2 linked regions of the Homo sapiens genome follow. The protein of the gene in region 1 interacts with the protein of each later gene in a pairwise test. Each region holds a gene or a part of one and is shown on either strand. Other genes may lie near its edges.

The links.
Region 2: the proteins of NR4A3 (region 1) and KRTAP4-4 interact in binary tests that used the Homo sapiens proteins (3 or more experiments, as listed by UniProt).

The regions. Positions count from the first base shown.
Region 1 is NC_000009.12:99,824,563-99,828,390, forward strand, and holds part of NR4A3 (nuclear receptor subfamily 4 group A member 3), read left to right. Parts: intron 1-1,096; 5' UTR 1,097-1,270; intron 1,271-2,167; exon of another isoform or gene 2,168-2,208; coding exon of another isoform or gene 2,209-2,239; intron 2,240-2,785; exon of another isoform or gene 2,786-2,904; intron 2,905-3,478; coding exon of another isoform or gene 3,479-3,480; coding exon 3,481-3,828. UniProt on the Homo sapiens protein: Transcriptional activator that binds to regulatory elements in promoter regions in a cell- and response element (target)-specific manner.
Region 2 is NC_000017.11:41,158,886-41,162,294, reverse strand, and holds KRTAP4-4 (keratin-associated protein 4-4), read left to right. Parts: upstream 1-1,546; 5' UTR 1,547-1,603; coding exon 1,604-2,104; 3' UTR 2,105-2,646; downstream 2,647-3,409.

The sequences.
Region 1 (3,828 bases):
ACCTGGGAGCCCCGAGTCCCTTTCTCTCTTCCTGCAGGCAAGCCCCGGGCTCAGGGGCGCCAGGAGATGACCCTCGTGGCCCCGCGCACCTCGGAGGTTTTTGGTTTGGTTTGATTTGGGGTTTTTCGGTCCCTGTTCCCACTCTTCGAGCTGCGCCCACCCCGGGCAAAGGGGGCGCTATAGGCCGGAGTTTGGGCACCCAGTTCCTTCCCTGAGGCCTGCTGAGCTGCGCTTTCAGCTACAAAGTTTCGCTGAGGCTGTGGGCTGAGACGCTGGTCCCGGAGCTGCGCTCGGCGCCCTCAGGAATGTGCCCCCGCTAGGCCGCTGGGTGGCCAGGAGCCTCCAAGCCGCCCACCCTCGAAGACACCGCCCTCTGGGTGCAGGGGACCTGCCTCCGCTCGTCCCATCAGCCGCTAACGCCGTCCGCTTCGTCCCCTTGCTTCCAGCGCCAGCCTTCTCATCGCTGTGCCCTTTTGTTTGCTTGACCCCTGGCCCTCGAAACTCGCGGCTAATAGAAGCGAAGCTCCATTAGCATTTAGAATGAAAAGCGCAGACTTTCTTAATTCCTCGGGGCATTCATGCATTCGTTCCGGACCTTGTGCATTTCCTATGCAACGTGTAAAATTTGTATTTGAGGGGTGGGGGCGGGCGGAGCTGGAAAATGGCTTTTTTCCGCTGGTGAACACTCACTGACCCCCCGTATTCGGGCGGAGCTCGTTCCTCAAGTGTTCTGCTTTCTTTGGTTTTCCTGACTTCGTAAGCTCGGAATCAATTGTGGGGGCAGAGAGATCAATTTCTGGGCAATAACAGGCTGCGCGTTTTTTTTTTAGCCTCGGTTTTGGTGCCACAAAACGGTGGTAGGCGCAGTGGGTTCCAACAACCTTTCCTCGGCTTCCCCGAGGCCGTGTGATGCTTCTTGCCCAGGGGGACTCCTGTACCATTAATCACCCTTAATTTTACGATAATTCTTTGTAATTAATGTAACATTTCTAGAGGTTGCCAACCAATTCCCCCAGTCCCCAATGCGCCCAGCCCGGGCCGTAGTGACCCATCCTGGTCTCACTGTGACCTATGTCCTCTTTCACCTTGCCTGTAGAGCCCACTGCGGAAGAGGGCAGCCCGGCAAGCCCGGGCCCTGAGCCTGGACCCTTAGCGGTGCCGGGCAGCACTGCCGGCGCTTCGCCTCGCCGGACGTCCGCTCCTCCTACACTCTCAGCCTCCGCTGGAGAGACCCCCAGCCCCACCATTCAGCGCGCAAGATACCCTCCAGGTAGGTCCGAAGGCAAGACCCTTTTCTCCTCCCTGGCTGAGGGAAGTGGGTGGGGGAACCACACACTCGGCGGGCAGCGTGGTCGACCTGCCCAGTGCCAGGACAGTGACTGCTGGCCGCGAATTTCACAACACAGGTGGCTTCCTCACAGGAAGCTCCTCTGTATACCACACCCTGTTGCTACTGAGTGGAGCAGCCAAATTAAATTAAGCTTGCATTGCTCAAAATTAATTTTCCTAAGAGAAATACAAATACACCAATAGATTAGGGTATTTTATACATTTTTAATTTCATTTTTGCTCTTCTTTTATAGCCAGTGTGCACATGTAAGAGTTATGGAATCACTTAGAGCAATACTGAGCATTTTCATTTATATAAAACCCAAATCATTTGGGTGCAGAAGTTTGGATGATTGAAGCTCAGAGGGAAGGAGAAAAGCATTTGAGATGAAAACCAAAGAGTAAATTTGAGTTTGGCAAAAGAACAGATTGCACTTTTGGTTTGTACCACCTCTTTACAAATTTGTTAAAGGAATACTAGGTGCCAAGCCTGTGTGGGCACCATAGATAATGCAGATAAATAGAATACAATCCCAGCAAGCTCATCTTCTAGCTAGAAACCTCAGAAAGACACAAATAAGAGCAGTAAAAAGGGATTGGCCGGAAAGAATGACAGAAAAGAGTAATGGAGAAATCCTAGAGGTGCTGAAGGGAGAAGGAGAATAGATCAAAGATCAGGCAGTGTTCTTTCTTTTAAATGATTAGCCTTTCATTTCATCCCAACAACTGGACAGCAAGATAAGTAACTGGACTTCAAACTAGTGAGTGTATTTTTAAGGCCCTGCTTGTTAAAGAAAGGCTTGAACTGGCCTCTCCTCATCACTGCTTCTTCCAACAGGCCCTCATCACCTTTTTTCAAGTCAAGATTTCATCCCATACATGCATGACTCAATCAGATTTGGAAATGTGGGTAAGAGAAAGATGTCAAAGGAAATGTGAAGTATTCACTTCTCTATTAGTCACACCTTTTACACCATAGACTCCAAAGAGGCGTTAAGCACCTGGTTTTCCTTTGGCTCAGAAAAACCAACCACCAAAAACCGCCGTTTTTTACCATTTATATTTAGCCATAAAGAAAGAAAAATAATTAGATAAATCATCCACTACATCCAATAATTCTCAGCGCCTTCTCACTCAGTTCAGCCTCTCTGAACAATAGTAAGCACCCTGGATACCAGCCACTTTGGGGGCAACATAGTCAAACTGGCAGAGAAATCAAGTCTATTGAGAAACTGCTTTTTTTCATGGGTACTAATTCTAGTGTCATAAGGAAATACCTATACTAACTTGCCTATTATGATAGTTATAAACTGTTATCACAAAACAGTCACTGATATGTTTTATTAGTTAGAATTGGGATATATATATGTGTGTGTGTGTGTGTGTGTGTGTGTGTGTGTATATATATATATATGGGTGGGTGTTTTGTTGCAGCTGCTGATCTTTTTCTTTGCAGATGGTACAAACTCTCCCGAGTCAATTTCCTGGGCCTATGTCCCCACCTAGCTGACTGAAGTTATCAACAGGGGTCCAGTTTGTGCAGGCTGCTAGCCCTATTGGAAGAGTGGGGATGAGGTGGGAGAAAGCAACCACAACGTGTGTGGGCAACCTCAATTGGCACTCATAAAATGTTAGAATGTCAACTCTCTCCCTTGGCCACTAAATCTCTCACAGGGTAGTTTTTCTTGCCTAACTCAGGTTTACAAATCAATGTGTATGCCTTGGGGGACCAATGGCCTCTTTCCTCCCAAATAAACCACTGGCTTTCTCTTTGTCCCCCTAGGTTATAGCTGAGGAGCCCACTCCAATTAGTTTATAGGATTCAAAGCCTCTTTTTAAAAACATCTCTGAGCTTATGAGGAAAGACTTCAAGTTTCCCAAATCTAGTGGAGGACAGGGCAAGGGAGGAAAGATAGGTACAGGAGTCCACAGGAGGCCAGGTTTTGGCACCCCTTTGTCAGGAATTCAGCTTCCTTACTAGGGATGAAGAAAATAAGTGTGGGGCTTTGTGTCTATGCTACCAGAAGGAGGAGAGGATGACACTTCCTCTCTGTTTCCCAGATTAGAGAACAGTGAACCCAATGCTGCCTGTTGGCTAGAAAACAAGTGTTAACTTGCTTCTGAGAGACCCTTTTCTCTGTCCCTGCAGATATGCCCTGCGTCCAAGCCCAATATAGCCCTTCCCCTCCAGGTTCCAGTTATGCGGCGCAGACATACAGCTCGGAATACACCACGGAGATCATGAACCCCGACTACACCAAGCTGACCATGGACCTTGGCAGCACTGAGATCACGGCTACAGCCACCACGTCCCTGCCCAGCATCAGTACCTTCGTGGAGGGCTACTCGAGCAACTACGAACTCAAGCCTTCCTGCGTGTACCAAATGCAGCGGCCCTTGATCAAAGTGGAGGAGGGGCGGGCGCCCAGCTACCATCACCATCACCACCACCACCACCACCACCACCACCATCACCAGCAGCAGCATCAGCAGCCATCC
Region 2 (3,409 bases), on another chromosome or scaffold:
TTCCTTGGGTTTCTTTAACATCCAGGTTTGGGGGAGTGTGTGTGTGTGTGTGTTTGAGTGTGTGTGTGTGTGTGTGTGCATAATATTCCTAAGGTAAAGGGCCTTAGGAGATAAAGGTAAATACATATATATATAAATATATATATTTCTAAATATGTTATTGTATATATTATATATATATTTATACATACTATTAAATACAAACATATATGAAGAATATATATTATATATTCATAAATATGTAAATATATATATTCCTATATTACCTATATATAAGGTTCTCTATCTACCCATCTATATATGTATAATATATATATATATTCCTAAGGTCCTTTGGCAGAATATATATATTCCCCCAAACCTGTGTGTGTGTGAGTGTATATATATATATACATATACATCAAAAGAAAATTATGGGCCTAGAAGAATTAAAATCACCCAAGGTCAGACATAATGTGTGTGTATGTGTGCGTGTGTGTGTGTATATATATATATATATATATATATACACACACACACGCACACATACACACACATACATACACACACATATATGTGTGTGTATGTGTGTATATTTATATATAGTGTGCATATTTATATATAGTGTGTATATTTATATATAGTGTGTATATACGTGTGTGTGTATACTATATATAGTATATATATGTATATATATAATATATATTATATATATATATATATATTATATATATATAGCAAGGACACTGGGTCCTTTACCTTAGGTTGGCAAGTAAACCTTAGAAATAGAGGAGATGACTCAATGTGATTGTTAAAGCCAGAGAGACAGGAAGGAAAAGTCAGAAGGAAAATCAGCCCCTCAGAGCAGAGAGCGGAGGGACCTGAACCTTTTAGTATAGCTGATCTCTGTAGCCAATTTCCCCTAAAGGCCCTGAAACTGAGTTTTGGAGTGTTGTTTCTCAAGAAAAAGAAGCATCGATAATTCATGACTTAGATGTCCACCTTAAAACAATTCTGCTTTCCCCAGTAGAACATCTAGAAAATGGGTCATGATTCATTGTATGGAAGGTGGCAAGGAATATATCCTAATAGTATTTGTTTTCATGCCACTGGTCACCTGTTTCACATTCAAACCTTCATTGCTCACTTGATCTATAACAAACATGCCATGAGATTAAAGCACAGCTTTCTCCTCCTGAGTCACCAAAAGAAAATTACGGGCCTAGAAGAATTAAAATCACCCAAGGTCAGACATAATGTATTAAGGAAAATGAGGCTGCAGCACATGGTACCTGCAGGCAGATGTCACATGGCAGCTCAAGGAGGAAGCTGCAGCAAGAGGCACACAAGAGGTTGTTCAAGAAGAGCTGACCTGAAGAATCCTAACACACCAGGGGAAGGAAATAATGCTTTTCTCCATGTTGACAAATTTAAGCAGAAAAACAAACTTGCCTAATTTGATAATTGCCTGCTCATCAGAACAAACAATGACAAGGAAAGAGTGCTGCATCCGATGACATCAGCCCTGAGCAGGGTATAAAAGAGGATCTGGGGCAAGGAGACTTCCAAGCCTTCCAAACCCTCCTTCCTGGAAACCCACCCAGAACCTCCACCCTCTGACACCATGGTCAACTCCTGTTGTGGCTCTGTGTGCTCTGACCAGGGCTGTGGCCTAGAGAACTGCTGCCGTCCCAGCTACTGCCAGACCACCTGCTGCAGGACCACCTGCTGCCGCCCCAGCTGCTGTGTGTCCAGCTGCTGCAGACCCCAGTGCTGCCAGACCACCTGCTGCAGGACCACCTGCTGCCACCCCAGCTGCTGTGTGTCCAGCTGCTGCAGACCCCAGTGCTGCCAGTCTGTGTGCTGCCAGCCCACCTGCTGCAGACCCCAATGCTGCCAGACTACCTGCTGTAGGACCACCTGCTGCCGCCCCAGCTGCTGCAGGCCCCAGTGCTGCCAGTCTGTGTGCTGCCAGCCCACCTGCTGCTGCCCCAGCTACTGTGTGTCCAGCTGCTGCAGACCCCAGTGCTGCCAGACCACCTGCTGCAGAACCACCTGCTGCCGCCCCAGCTGCTGTGTGTCCAGGTGCTACAGGCCCCATTGTGGCCAGTCTCTATGCTGCTAGCCCATCTGCTGGCAAACCACCTGCTACAGGACCACCTGCTGCCACCCCAGCTATTGCATTTCCAGCTGCTGCCAGCCTTCCTGCAGTATCTCTAGCAGCAGTAGCTCCTCCTGCTGTGGCTTCAGCTGCTGCAGGCTCTCCTGCTGCATCTCCAGTTGCTGCCGCCCCAACTGCTGCCAGACCATGTGCTGCCGCCCAACCTGCTCTAGTGCTTCTTGCTGCTGAGGCTGTCATCTGGACTCACCAGATTCTCATCAACCAGCATTCTTGATGTAGCTCATCTATGAGCTGAGTTATGGGAAGCTAGTTGGAAAACTTCAGTTCCAACCAATTCTTAGATTGAATCTGGCCTCCAAATATATGCTCCCCCCACATTTTACCTCTCTACCAAATGAACATAAGTTGTAATTTGCTCTGAAATCTGTCAACTATCTTAATTGAAATATTTGCTCTCTGCCATAATTTCTCATATGGAGCTATTCCATTTTAAACAAATATTTATCTAAATAAATCTTAAATAAATTTTCAGGCATAGAAATATACAGATACTGTGTCTCATTATTTTTCTTTTTTGAGTGTGGTCAATTACCAGTCAATTTTTCTGTTGTTCTTCTCTGCAGAATGTAATTTCAGGGGCACCACCTCTATTTCCTCAGCACACTTTATTCTAATATACAATGGTGGTTTCTTAGAGCAAGCACCTGGAACTCTCTTCTTGAAGAGTTTCTCTAGCCAAGGAGCAAGCTCTGGACTGTAGAGTTAAAGCCTCTTGGAATAGTATTCAACAAATGAGTGAGAGTTGGTGAACACATGCTTTAGTTATTTCTCCTCCAGTTGGGAGCATGTTGTACCAGCATGTCAGTGGTCCTCAGAGACACCAAATTCCAGCTACCTACAGGGCTATTCTGATCATTAACTCATCTTGTATTCACTTCCCTCCCTTTCCTGGAGCATTTTTCGTGTTCCATACAGCACTTCTTGGGACCACCTCCCAAATATACTCCTGGGTCGGCTCCAGTGGGGACCCAATCTAAGACACCAGTGTTCCTAACCTCAGTATTAGTGCCCTTCAAAACATTTTTCCTTTTTTATTGATATGTAGCAGATGCGCATATAAAATTTTGATACATCCATATAATTTGTAAAGATCCAATCAGGGTAATTGGATTATCCATCACAGTTTATCTTTTCTTTATGCTAGGAACATCTGAATTATTCTTTTGTAGCTACTTTGGAATGTTTAATAGATCATTGTTAACTATAGTCATCCTACAGTTATATTGAATACTAGGTCATATTTTTATC